Homo sapiens: one gene and its partner. The protein of the gene in region 2 purifies or fractionates together with the protein of the main gene of each other region. This does not show direct contact. Each region holds a gene or a part of one and is shown on either strand. Other genes may lie near its edges.

What was found. The genes of interacting proteins can lie anywhere in the genome.
Region 1: the proteins of PRAP1 (region 2) and CD48 purify together in Homo sapiens (affinity purification with mass spectrometry; 3 studies listed by BioGRID and IntAct, with this or other methods). This does not show direct contact.

Annotation. Positions count from the first base shown.
Region 1 is NC_000001.11:160,708,814-160,716,249, reverse strand, and holds the start of CD48 (CD48 antigen isoform 1 precursor), read left to right. Parts: upstream 1-4,427; 5' UTR 4,428-4,486; coding exon 4,487-4,568; intron 4,569-5,761; exon of another isoform or gene 5,762-5,826; intron 5,827-7,436. UniProt on the Homo sapiens protein: Glycosylphosphatidylinositol (GPI)-anchored cell surface glycoprotein that interacts via its N-terminal immunoglobulin domain with cell surface receptors including CD244/2B4 or CD2 to regulate immune cell function and activation.
Region 2 is NC_000010.11:133,343,523-133,350,419, forward strand, and holds the start of PRAP1 (proline-rich acidic protein 1 isoform 1 precursor), read left to right. Parts: upstream 1-3,850; 5' UTR 3,851-3,895; coding exon 3,896-3,903; intron 3,904-6,572; coding exon 6,573-6,639; intron 6,640-6,897. Other genes in the region: ZNF511-PRAP1 readthrough, read left to right, coding at 6,573-6,639. UniProt on the Homo sapiens protein: Lipid-binding protein which promotes lipid absorption by facilitating MTTP-mediated lipid transfer (mainly triglycerides and phospholipids) and MTTP-mediated apoB lipoprotein assembly and secretion.

The DNA.
Region 1 (7,436 bases), on a different chromosome or scaffold from region 2:
ATCCTTCTGTAAAATGTTGGAGGATTAAATGAGATAATATAGGCAAAGGTCCTGGCAAGTACTTGACTTAGTAGATACACAGAAAATAATAGCTTCTGTCATTACTATCACTTTGTCAAAGTCAAGCAGTAGGTCAAGTGCCCACCAGATTAGATACTGAGAAGAGTGTGTATTTTAATTCACATCATGAGGATTGTTGACCTGTACTTCATCTTCTAGGGTCTTTGCAGCCCCACCTCTGGGTATGCCCAAACTTCAGGGATTTCTGCAACCAGGGCTTTGGTGCAAGAACAGCTGATTCACTTAGGGCAGGGAGAGGGCTTTTGAGCCTTTATTGGTCACTTCTCTCAGACTTGTTTTTGAATCTATGCAGAAGCCTAACTAGCTAGTCCTGAACCTCAGAATGGGCACCCATAGTACTTCAGTGCCCGCTGTTACCATGCAAAAGGAGGAAGATTCCTTGGCTTAAGTTTATATTTCATCCTTTGTTTTAACATCAGCCTATATCCCATGGCTATTAATTCACATCTAAGCAGACTGTTGAGAATTATAGAGCTGTTTACTTGTCAATCTAAAAGAAAGAGGCTGAAACACAAAATATGATTTGAAGACTTTACTTGAGCCAAAGGGAGGACAGCTGCCTGGAAGACTCAGACCCAAGTAAAATTGGTTTTGAGCTCTGCTCAGCCTTTGTTACAAGCAGGTTTTTAAAGGCAAAAAAAGTGATACAAAGTTTTTTTTTTGGAATTCTCATTGGTTTGCAGAAATAACATTAATTAGTGATTGGTTACATATTGTTAAGCTGTAAGGTGTGGGTTATATGTCCAGTGCAGCATTATTAGATTAATTTATGGTTACTTGCAGCAATAGCAAGTAGTTTTAAGAGGTGAATACATAGCCCAAAGGTGGAGTAGGGGGAAGTAAAATGTGATTTCTGTCTCATTTAAATGTCTCTCTGATAATTTGAAGGACTCACATTCTTCAGATAAAAGTTCTTTCCTTTCTTCAACTTTTCACAACAACATTCAAAGGAGGTATTTTAACATTTATTTTTATTTTTACTTTTAGTAGAGATGGGGTTTTGCCATGTTGCCCAGGCTGCTCTCAAACTCCTGAGCTCAGGCAATCTGCCCTCCTCGGCCTCCCAAAGTGATAGCGACAGGAGACAGACAAATTCCTGGACAGATAGAAAAGGGTCCCTGGTGAAACTAGACTTTCAAGACAAAGACAGTTTAAAGCCTGAAAACTGGGCTGCCAGTTCTGGGTAGAGTCCACAACCAGAGTGAGAACTTCCTTGATACCTTTTAGCTAATCGAATGGTGCTTTTTCCAGGCCTGCCTATGGACAAATCTGAGCCGATGAAAACCCCAGACTCAGCCTCACAGAGGGCTACCTGTTTTGGGGCCCCTCTCACACAGTGGTCTACCCACTGTCTGGTCCCCTCTTTGCTGAGAGCTTTCCTTCTGTCACTCAATAAAATTATTCTCTGACCTACTCACTCTCCTTTGTCTGCATGCTTTATTCCTCTTGGTTGCAGGACAAGAACCCAGGACCTGCTGAGCTGCAGGTGGCAGGAACAAGCTGTAACATACCCGTATTTGCTGAGCTGTGGGCACTGGGACCAAGTGAGAGCTGTGACACACCCCCATTCACTGAACTGCAGGCAGCAAGACTAAATAAGAGCTGTGACATGCCCCCATTTGCTGAGCTGCAGGCAGTGGGACTGAACAAGAGCTGTGAGGTGCCCTCATTTGCTGAGCTGCAGGTGGCAGGAACAAGCTGTAACATACCCGTATTTGCTGAGCTGTGGGCACTGGGACCAAGTGAGAGCTGTGACACACCCCCATTCACTGAACTGCAGGCAGCAAGACTAAATAAGAGCTGTGACATGCCCCCATTTGCTGAGCTGCAGGCAGTGGGACTGAACAAGAGCTGTGAGGTGCCCTCATTTGCTGAGCTGCAGGTGGCAGGAACGAGAGAGAGAGCTGTAACATTTCTTGGGGTCTCAGGCCTTGGGATTCCCCAAGCAAAGCTGTAACACCCCTTAGGGCTCCGCAGTTGCTGGCATCTCCGAGTTTCTTAGTGCCACTGTGTTCCCTTCATTTAGACACTGGTGCCCAAGGTGGAAGCAGGTCACAGCACTCCCCGTCCTGCCACTGACTGAGTGTGGATCCTATGGCTCAGGAGTTCAAGACTGGCCTGGGCAACATGGTGAGACCTCATCTCTACAAAAAATTTTAAAAAAATAGCCATGCATAGTGGTCACTGTACTCCAGACTGGGTGACAGAGTGGGAGCCTGTGCCCCCCTCCCCCCAAAAAAGAGAATGTAACATTAATTTACAGGGTCTCTTTTAAAAATCTAATACAATGTTATCTTTTCTTGCTGAAGGAGCAGGGTCGTATCCTAAGGTTAAATCAATTTATAGGAAAAATATAACACACAGTTCCAAAGTGTAACAATTTGACCAAGAGGAATTTGATTCTGGTGCTGTTTCAAATTTTATTTGCAGGGTTCTTTCTTTTCACTTTTATGTTTTTTTCCCTTTTATTTTTAGTTGACATATAATAATTATACATATTTATGGGATACAGAGTAATATTTTGATACATGTATTCAATGTGTGATGATCAAATCAAAGCAATTAGGATACCTATCACCTCAAACATTGATCATTTCTTTGTGTTGGGAACATTCCAAATCCTCTCTTCTAGCTTTTTGAACATATACATTAAATTATTCTTAACTGTATTCACTCCATAGTGCTACAGGATGCTGGAACTTATTCCTCTTCTCTAGCTGTAACTTTGTATCTATTAACCAACTTCTTCCCATCCTCCACTTCCCTCTACCCTTCCCAGCCTCTGATAACCACAATTTTACTCTCTACTTCTATGAGCTCATTTTTTAAGCTTCCATATATGATTGGGAACGTGGTTTTTTATCTTTCTGTGCATGACTTATTTCACTTAACATAATGTCCTTCAGGTTTGAGGACTGAGAAGAGCAGACATTTTATTGTTCATCTCCATGTTGAGAATCAGAAATGTCCCCAATTAAAAAGTGATTACAAATATGTTATATCAGGAACTGTGGCTTGCCTGTGGGTCCTGGGTGGGCAAATAACTAATTTACATTCAATAGGAATGAGCTTGAAATTTCCTAGACATGATATGATTTGGCTGTGTTCCCTTCCAAATCTCATCTTGAATTGTAGTTCCCATAATCCCCACATATCATGGGAGCAACCCAGTAGGAAGTAAGTTAATCATACGAGCAGTTACCATCATGCTGTTCTCGTGATAGTGAGTTCTCACTAGATCTGATGGTTTCATAAGGAAGGGGCTTTCCCCATTGCTGCTCAGTGCTTCTCTTTCCTGCCACCGTGTGAAGAAGGACGTATTGGCTTCCCCTTGCACCATGATTGTAGGTTTCCTGAGGCTTCCCAAGCCATGCTGAACTAGAAGTCAATTTAACCACTTTCCTGGCCAGGCACAGGCCCATGCCTATAATCCCAGCACTTTGGGAGGCTGAGGCAGGTGGATCACTTGAGGTCAGGAGTTCAAGACCAGCCGGGCCAACATGGTGAAACCCTACTAAAAATACAAAAATTAGCTGGGCATGGTGGTGCTTGCCTGTAATCCCAGCTATGTAGGAGGCTGAGGCAGGAGAGTTGCTTGAACCTGTCAGGTGGAGGTTGCAGTGAGCTGAGATTGCACTGCTGCACTCCAGTCTGGGCTACAGAGTGAGACTGCATCTCAAAAAAAAAAAAAACCAAAACAAACAAAACAAAACAAAACCCCTCTCTTTCCTTTATAAATTACCCAGTCTGGGGTATGTCTTTATTAGCAGTGTGAGAACAGACTAATACAGACTACAAGGGTGGGAAATCCATTCTTTTGGGCCAAGTAATCTTACTTTTTTTCTGATGTTCAGTGGATAGGCTGATGTCAAACTTCAAATAGTGAATTATCATAAAGGAAGAAGAGCAGAGGGTGGTGCTGGGGGTAAGATATGCAGCACAAAGGCTACGTGGGTCTGATTTCCCAGACTTCAGGCTCTGAATGACACCTACCCAGGCTTGACTGGGAAGCTCCTATGTCTTAGCCCCTGAATTAATCAGAGGGATTCCTGCCTGGGAACGAAAAGCAGACATTCTCTATCAGGGTCCCTTATTCTTTTCTGAGTACTGGCCCCCCTGAGAGTACAGTAGAAGCTATGAATCTTCCCCCTACAAAAAAGCACTCATGTACCTTCAAACAAAATTGTTCTCAGTTTCCGTGATGCTCTTAGATAAAAAAATTTACAAGACCTCCGGTTTCTGGTTTCTGGGGCCCCACACAAGTGTGCTGGGTGGAGAGAAAATCTCAGTGGTTTTTTTTTTTTTCTCTCTAACCCTGTTTGGTAAGTTCCGTTTTTAGCCCCGGCCTTTTTCTAGCCAGGCTCTCAACTGTCTCCTGCGTTGCTGGGAAGTTCTGGAAGGAAGCATGTGCTCCAGAGGTTGGGATTCGTGTCTGGCTCTGGAATTGCTACTGCTGCCTCTGTCACTCCTGGTGACCAGCATTCAAGGTACTTTCCACCAACTGTGTATCTGTGATTGTGCACTGAAGGCATGGTCAGTTGGGAAAGGGGAGACGGGATGTAGTTCAACCCTAGAAGCCAGATCTGGTGTCTGGAAAGCAGGTATTTCCATTCCAATAGCATGGCCATGGCATGGTTGGGGAGCCTTTCTTAGCACTGATGAATGGAGCTTCATCTCCTTTCCCACGGGGATGTGATCAAAACAGGAACCTGGGGAGCAAGAGAAGTAGGCTCCTCATATTTTGTCCCGTGGTTGGTGGTCCATGAAGTTGTGGAAAAGTGTTTGTTTTTTCATTTTGAATAAGAAGAAGCTCTACACTGACAGCTGCTGCATTTTATGCTCAGACACACTGTACTCCCTTAGGCATTCTTTGAGACCTCTGTATATGTGAGGTGTTGCATCCTGAGCCAAGGTAAATGATATTGTCATTGACCCAAAGAAAAGATAGATCAAAATTATAGGAAGAAAAGCTTGGAAAGGATTGCTGTCTGGGGTCTCTGAATGAGGGTCTGAGAAGAGGCTGGAAGTGCTTCAGCATCAAAGGAACCTTAACACATCTGATTGCTAAGAGTTAAGGTCCATTCCTCTGCCACAGCCTGTTCGGTCCCCGGTGTGTGACCAAGGGCTGAGCTAACTTTCCTTCTCCTGTTAGAGCTGCCTCACCCTCTTTCTTCATCCAGTACCTCTCTTCTTATGCCAGCTGAGAAACAGCAGTGAAACCTTTGACTTTCTTGCTATTCCCCCAAGTAAATACTCAAGTCTTTTTAATTTAAAGGGCTTTAATGCTCACCACTCTGAGTAAAACAGTAAAAATCAACAAACATGTGGTAGTCACACTGTGGCATAAAATGATGATAGTTTGTAACTTTTGGGGAGATGAGGTAGAATGTGTGGAGGATCGGTCTCTCACATATTCTACCTCTCAGGTAGAGTCCTTTGGTTCATGACTGTGTGAGTCTACGGCTATATAGGTTCTGTGGGCCTGACTCAATGCATAGGACATTGGTATGACCTTGGGATTGGGGGCTGATGTGAAGTATTCATCTAACTATTGGGAAAAGCAGGGTTGCCAATGAGAATTGGAATATTTTAGGACTTTCTCTAGGCATACTGAAAACATCCTGACAGTTGACCTTTCTCTGACTTCTTTTCTAGGCTTCATCTTGGTCATTTATTCTTCTTTGAAACAATCAGACCACACCTGATTATGTTATCCTTTGAATGGATAATATTGGTTTTGATGAGGTTAGTAAACCTGGGTTATAACACCCGGGCTATAACCTGGGTTAGTAAAATACAAATTAAGCACTTACTGTGTGTCAGACATTGTGCTAGGCCTTTTGCATACTTTTTCATTTAACTTTCATTAGAAAATAGTGAGGTGGCTATTATTATCTACATTTTTCAGATGAGAATACTGTCTTGCAGAGAGATTAAGAAATTCTCCTAAGGGCACACAGGTCTAACTTCCAAACCATTCTATTATGATTATACCTTTCCTAGACTAAGGCGAGGGAATCTTGGTGAAGGTCAATGTGTCTAAATCTCTTAATTTTACTGTTTGCCTTAAAAGAGGCGTTTTCTCTTACCTCTGGGCTTATGTACATGCCTTCTTTCCACCTAGATTTCTCTCCCTCCTGCCCTCTCCCTGCCTCTCTTTTAGGCTTCTGTTTTTATGTGACTTCTTCTTGGACTGTCTGCCTGTGACTGTGTTCTGAAGGCATGGTTAGATGGGAACCTCAGGCTCCAGATTATGGTTTGTGAATTGCTTGGTGGATCATCTGTTTCCTTGAACTTTTTGAGGACAGAAACCATGTGCAGTGTTGTGCTGCTGAACTTAGCACAGGCCTGGAGTGTGGCATGTGCTCAATAAATAATTGTTACACAAATGAATGAACAACTTCAAAAAACTTCCTTTTGGACTACACATCCATATCTTCCTGAGAAGTGCAAGTAGTTCTCTCCTCTGCCGTAAGGGATGCTTCTGTGGAAAACTTTGAGAAGCACTCTTAGCTCTCTTCTTCCTTCTCTCCTCAGACTTGGGTTTCTCAGTTCTTTGGTTTCAAGGCAATGATTTAGGGCATGCTCCACAACTACCCAATTCCCCATCTGTCCACAACACTTAGCAGGATGAAGTAGACAGAGTATTGTACTAGAAATGAGATGACCTAGTTCTATCTGGGTTCCATGCTGTGGAATTTTCAACAAGTCATTAAAGCTTCCTGAGCCTCAGCTTCCTCAGCTCCATAATGGGTATAATAATCTGTTCCTCATTTCTTCAAGGGGTTGCTATTAAGATCAAATAAAATAAAAAATGTGCAATTGCTTTGCAATTGTGACACATGCGGAATCCGATACAGATGAAAACCTGGGAAGAGCATCAGTAAATTCTTAAGCCCCAAGCAGTCTCCTGAGCCCAAGATCAGAACTTCTGTCTCTTAAACATCTTCTCTAGACTCTCCAGACACGTGTCTAAAACTTAAGTCATCATCTCTGTTTCCGCTATGTATTGCTATTTAACAAGCTGCCACAATACCGTGGCTTAAAATAATAACAATGATTTACTTTGCCCACAGATTTGGGGGAAGACTGTTCATCCTGTCTCACTTTCATGTGCTTTTCATGTGCTTGCAATCAGATCATGGTGTGGCCTAGAGTCATGCAAGGCTCTTCACTCACAGGGCTACTGCCTGAACAGAGGGAGGCTCAAAGTGCTGGGTGGCTAGTGCCACTCAGCAGAAGCCTCCCAGAGTTGGTGTCCCAAGAGAAATAGGCAAATGCTGCATGGTCTTTTCTAAGCTAGCTTTGCAGGTCACACTTCCGGTGTATTCCATTCATTGAAGCCATCACCGAGC
Region 2 (6,897 bases):
TTCTGCTTGCTGCCCAGAGAGAGCCGATTTATCAGGGCAGAGAGAAACTGCAACACGGAAAGTTTAATTCACGCGGAGCCGGCTGAACGGGAGGCTGGAGCTTTATCACTACTCAAATTTTAAAGGATAATTTGGTGGGTAGGGGTTGGGAAGCAGGGAGTGCTGATCGGTTGGGTTGCAGATGAAATCACAGGGAGTCGAATCTGTCCTCTTGTGCTGAGTCACTTCCTGAGTGGGGGCCACAAGACCAGGTGAGCCAGTTCATGGATCTGGGTGGCACCAGCTGTTCCACCAAGTTCAGAGTCCGAAAAATGTCTCGAGCACCAATCTTAGGATTTACAATAGTGATGTTTTCCCTAAGAATAATTGGGGAGGCTTAGAATCTTGTGGCCTCCAGCTGCCTGACTCCTTTTTTTTTTTTTTTTTTTTTTTTTGAGACGGAGTCTCGCTCTGTCACCCAGGCTGGAGTGCAATGGCGTGATCTCTGCTCACTGCAAGCTCCGCCTCCCAGGTTCAGGCCATTCTCCTGCCTCAGCCTCCCGAATAGCTGGGACTACAGGCGCCTGCAACCACGTCCGGCTAATTTTTTGTATTTTTAGTAGAGACGGGGTTTCACCATGTTAGCCAGGATGGTCTTGATCTCCTGACCTCGTGATCCGCCTGCCTCGGCCTCCCAAAGTGCTGGGATTACAGGCGTGAGCCACCGCGCCCGGTCCTGCCTGACACCTAAAACATAATTTCTTTTTTATTTTTCATGAAAGCCACTGACTTTCTTGATCTAAAAAACTTTACAAGGACAGTGACTGTTCTGCCAAAAAAGGAGCCAAATAGTATCAAATGGACTGAAAGTGAGGGTGGAGGTGAGGGACGGGGCCAGGAATCCATTCAGGAAAGCTGGTAACTGTCACCAGGGAAAGTGAAAAAGGAAGGGGGAGACATGCAAGAGTGAGAGTCCAAAAAAGTTGAAATGGTTAGGGGAGAAAACTCCCAAAAGACCCAGAGTGCGTCAGACGTGAGTATGACAATAGCAATCTTCTCCTTTGTAGAGGACAGGGGAGGAGTCCCGACTCGGCTACAAACTCTGGGTGAGGGCTGGGGATTGAGAGCTTCCTGGAGAGCATCACAAGAAGGCATCGCATGCTCTCGAAGGCATCCGAAGTCCCGGGACTGCTTGGTGTTGGCACCACGAGTCCTTTGGCCATTCCCGGAACAGGTCTTCATCTTTCCTCAGCACCAGAAACTGGCCAAGGACAACATAGGCCTTGTCAAAGCCCCTTTCCTCCAGCTTCTTGCCCAGGACTTCACCAATCCTGGCCAGGCTCCCCACTAGCTTTTCCCCCATGGGCTCTGCCCTGAAGTCTCGGTGCTTTTGGGAGGTTGGCATCTTGATCAGGCTTAATCGGCAACTTCAGTTCCCGTAACGGTTCCTCCCGCCACCCGGCCGCTCCGGCCGATACCTCAAGCCACTAGAAGTTTCCTAAACCATAATTTCTAATCTTGTGACTAATTTGTTAGTTTTACAAAGGCAGTCTGGTCCCCAGGCAAGAAGGGGGTTTGTTCAGGAAGGGGCTGTTTTCATCTTTGTTTCAACATTAAACTATAAACTAAGATCCTCCCAAAGTTGGTGTGACCTACACCCAGGAATGAACAAGGACAGGTTGGAGGTTAGAAGCAAGGTGGAGTCGGTTAGGTCAGATTCACTATCAGGTTTTCGCAAAGGTGGTTTCAGGAGCAGCCCCAGGCAAGAAGGCCAGAGGAACATCTGTTCTCACCCAAGCCCAGCGGCTTCTTCGGGTGACCCCTCCTCAATAGCTCAGACGCTGTGGGTCACGTTGGAAATTCCTGAGTTGGCCTTTCTTGAGGGCCCTCACTCCACCCCCTTGGAAGCACGGCCTCCAATTGTGTCTGAACATGCAGCTTCGGGAGAACCATACCCTGCAGGCCGGCGGTCTCAGAGCCCCCAACAGTAGCTGCCCGCTGGGGGTTGTCGAGGAAAAGAGTGAAACCCTGTAAAATACTTGGAGAGTGATTCTGAGCCAAATATGAGTGACGGAAGGCCCATGATGCCGTCCCAGGAGATCCTGAGAACATGTGTGGCCCGAGAGGGTTGGGGTGCAGCTGGTTTGATACATGTTCGGGACACGAGACATCACTCAGTACGTGGGAGATGTACATGGGTTTGGTCCAGAAAGGCGGCGGGTGTCCAGGTCATTGGTGGATTCAGTAATTTTCCAATTGACAATTGGTCAAAAGAGTTAAGTTATTATCTAAAGACCTAGAATCAATAGAAGGGAAAGTCAGGGTTAAGATAAGGTGTTGTGGAGACCAAGTATATGCAGATAGAATCAATAAAAGGGACTATTTCTTGTCAGAGTCTGTTCTATTAGTCTTAAGGTCTCTGTTTTAATGTTAATGCTGGTCAGTTTTGCCTGAATTCCAAAAGGAGGCGGGTACAATGAGGCCTGTCTGACCCCCACTTCCCATTATGGCCTGAACTAGTTTTCAGGTTAACCGTGGAATGCCCTGGGCTTAGGGAGGGTCCATCAGTCGGGTGGGGTCAGGCGGAGATTGGAATTGTGTTTTTGTTTTACAGGGTGTGCCAGGGACGGCTAAAGAAGGTGGTCAGGGCCGGGCGCAGTGGCTCATGCCTGTAATCCCAGCACTTTGGGAGCCCGAGGCAGGCGGATCACTTAGGTCAGGAGTTCGAGACCAGCCTGGGCAACATGGCGAAACCTCGTTTCTATTAAATATACAAAAATTAGCTGGGCGTGTTGGTGCACACCTGTAGTCCCATCTACTCAGGAGGCTGAGGCGGGAGAATCACTGGAACCCAGGAGGCGGAGGTTGCAGTGAGCTGAGATCGCGCCACTGCACTCCAGCCTGGGTGACAGAGTGAGACTGTCTCAAAAAAAATAAAATAAAAAAGGCAATGAGGGCACTGGGCCCCGTGGAGCGGGCCCTGGCCACACAGCGTGCAAGACTCCTCAGGCTGGTGTGCCCAGTAAGGAAGGACAGGAGGGAGCGCCTGGAAGGGGTGGGGAAGGTGGTGGCGTTGGGGGTGAGGGTTCCACGGTGGTGGAGCTGAGCTGGTCCCGCCCTGCCGCAGGTGGTGGGCAGGGGCAGGTGTGACAGGCAGGTGGGCTGGGGCTGGATGGGGGATTTGTCACGCCCACCTGAGGAAGGAAGTGCTTCAGCTGAGCTGGGGACAGCTGCCCACGACACCCTTCCAAGTTGCCTTGGTTGTGAGCACGGTTCAGCCTTCATGACAAGCAGGTTTTTTTTTTTTGGTGTTGTTTTGTTTTGTTTTGTTTTTTGACTGAGTTTCGCTCTTTGTTGCCCAGGCTGGACTGCAGTGGCGCAATCTCGGCTCACTGCAACCTCCGCCTCCCAGGTTCAAGCAATTCTCCTGCCTCAGCCTCCTGAGTAGCTGGAATGACAGGAGCCCACCACCACGCCCACTTAATTTTTTTTATTTTTAGTAGAGACGGAGTTTCACTATGTTGGCCAGGCTGGTCTCAATCCCCTGACTTCAGGCAATCCACCTGCCTCAGCCTCCCAAAGTGCTGGGATTACAGGTGTGAGCCACCGCGCCCGGTCAACAAGCATGTTTTTAAAGGCAAATTTCTTCCTCAGTCGTGTGGCAGGCCCTGAGCAGGCAGCTGGGTGTCCCCGCTCAGATCCAGGCCCGAGTGGGCTGGGCGGCTGCAGAGCCAGTCACCTGAGCTACCCAGGGTGGGATCCCTGGCCCCGACCTCTGTCCTGACACGCCCCAAGCGGCAGCAACAAAGCCCCAATTGGCCTGGGCCTGGGCAGGAGGAGCTGGGCCGGGTGCCAGATACTGGGATCAGCCACTGCAGCTCCCTGAGCACTCTCTACAGAGACGCGGACCCCAGACATGAGGAGGTAATGCCACCATCCCTGAGCCCCAATCCCCACCCCACCCAAACCTGGAGGCCTGGCCCTTAGCCAGAGGGGGCCCAGCTGTGCTGCGCTCCAGGGGGCCTGGTTCAGGGGAGTGTGCGGGTGGGAGGGAGAAGGAGGGGCCCTCTGAGGGTCTGGGGTCTGCCACCAGGCTCTACCTCCTCTGTGGCCCCGAGTGCACTTGCCTCTTGGTTCCCCTGGCCTGGTGGAGAATCACCCAGGGACCCCCACCCGGAACAAGGAAAGGGGAGGTGCCAGGCTGAAACCAGCAGGCCTGTGACTGCCCAAAAGGAAGGGGGCTGGGGGAGGGGAGGGGCTGGGGCGCAGGAGCCAGGGGCTGCCCTGAGGTGGTGTCACCCTGGGAGCTGTGATCTGGAGCTCAGGGAAGCACCCGGGCTCCCGCTGGACCCTGGAATCAGAGGCTGCCTTCCTTCTGTGGGGGTGTCTGTCTTCCCCCTCCTTGTGTGGGGGACCCCTCTCCCCGCTCCTGTGGAGGTGCCCTCCTCCTCTTCCCCCTCCTCTAAGCCAGGGCCCTCCCTGCCCCTCCTCTCCTGGTGTTTCTCCCTTGTAGAGAGGTGGCTTCTGGGTAGCTTGGGGACCCTTTGGTGCCCAGAGCCGTTTGCCTGGAGAGGGGACCCACGGGGATCCCACAGCCAGGCTGCTTGGCAGTCACCACCGACCACCTTTCTAGGGGCTACCGTGACCCGAATCCCAGGCCCCCAGGCTGTGTGTCATGGGAGGTGGGCACCAGGGGTGGCCCAGGCAGCACGGCAGTGGGATTGGGGTCCAGTGCCCAGACAAGAGCCCCTGCCCAGCATCAGAACCAGCTGGGGGTCCTGAGGAGAAGCAGGGCCCCCGAACCAGACCAGACCAGGTCCCGGCCCCGGGCTGTCCGGGGCATCCCCCCTGCCCTTTGACCTCTCACCATGGCTGAGTCACCCAGAGAACGGGCAAAGGTCCCTGTGGAGCTGCAATCCAGGCCTGCAGGGTGTCCCAGACACTGATTCTTCTGCCTCAGCAGGAGTAGCTGCGATTACAGGTGTGTGCCACCACCCCCAGCTAAGTTTTGTTTTTTTTTTTTTGAGACAGAGTGTCTCGCTCTGTCGCCCAGGCTGGAGGGACTGCAGTGGCGCCATCTTGGCTCATTGAAACCTCCACCTCCCAGGTTCAAGTGATTCTCCTGCCTCAGCCTCCCAAGTAGCTGGGATTACAGGCACCTGCCACCACGCCTGGCTAATTTTTTTTTTTTTTTTTTTGTATTTTTAGTAGAGACAAGTTTTCACCATATTGGCCAGGCTGGTTTCGAATGCCTAACCTCAAGTGATCTGTTGCCTCAGCCTCCCAAAGTGCTGGGATTACAGGCGTGAGTCACCGTGCCCAGGCAGTTTCATATTTTTAGTAGAGACGGAGTTTTGCCATGTTGGCCAGGCTGGTCTCAAACTCCTGACCTCAGGTGATCTGCCCACCTCAGCCTCCCAAAGTGCTGGGATTATGGGTGTGAACCACTGCGCCTGCCCCAGACACCCTTGACTGCAGCCCTGCTGAGCCCTGTACAGACCCAGAGCCCCGCCCCACCCCAAGACCACCCCACCCTGACAGACGCAAGCCTCCCCCGCAGGGCCCTGAAGAGACAAGTCTGCACCACATCACACACGCACGCACACACAGACACACTCCCAAACCCTCACACTCTACACACCACACACGCATGCACACAGCACACACCCACCCCCAAACCCTTACGCTCCACCCCACACACAACATACATACACATCCAACACATACATGCACACACAGCACACACACACACCCAAGCCCACACACTCCACACCACACACAACATACACACACATCCACCACACACAAACACACATAACATACACACACAGCACACGCACCCCCGAACTCACACACTCCGCACCACACACAACATACACATGCACCACACACTGAAGCACACAGTGCACACACACCCGAACACGACACCACCCACAGCATACATGCACACCCACCATGCACATGGTCCACACCCACAAAACACACATGCACAGACAACATATGCACACCCCCCACCACATACACAAACACACACATCCCGTGTCCGAACTGACCTGACACCCTGCCTGCCTGCCTAATAGTGCTGCCATTCACCCCTGAGCCCCCCAGCCGTGGCCCCGCAGCTCTGGGACACAGCAGGTGCCCTGCCTGCAGCAGCGTGCAGCCTCAGGGCTCTGTGGGCGTGGGGCTGTGGGCCCTCGCTGCTCCATACCCACCCATACCCACACCCATGTGCAAGTGTGTTCATGTGTGTCCCCACGTGGAGGGCGGCACAGAGGCATGGCAGAACCTCTGGAGTTTCCAAGCCAACCACCAGTGCCTGCCACAGTGGGGTCTGCCCAGACTGTGAGGAGCAGAGTCTGGGGCTGGGGCTGTGGGCTCTGGCCTGAGGGGGGCTGGAGGCAGGTGGGCCTGGGGCTTCTCCCTGTTCTGTGCCTGCGTGTCTTGGCCCATGTGAGCACAGTCCAGTAAAACTACCTGCGCTCCCAAGGAGGAACCCAGCCCAGGCCTCCCAGCTGCCCATCAGGGTGCTGCCTGGAGTTCAGGGCGTCCCCTTCCCCTACCTCACACTTCCCTCTCTGGCCCCCCCTCAGGCTCCTCCTGGTCACCAGCCTGGTGGTTGTGCTGCTGTGGGAGGCAGGTGCAGTCCCAGCACCCAAGGTAGGTGTGAGCCCCTCCCATCTGGGCAGCAACTCCAGTTGTCACCTTCTGCCCCTACAGCAGGGGATGTGGACAAAGGGCCCCTCTTCTGGCTTCAAACCCCAAGCTGGCTTAGGGGAGAGAGGCATGGGTACGCTCATGACTCTTGATGCCTGTGCAGGCATGAGGAGGGGGCAGGCTTCCCTTCCCTGGGGTCAGATGGACAGGCCTCAAGACACCCAGGTGGTCCTAGGTGGATGATGTGGGTCCAGATGAGCC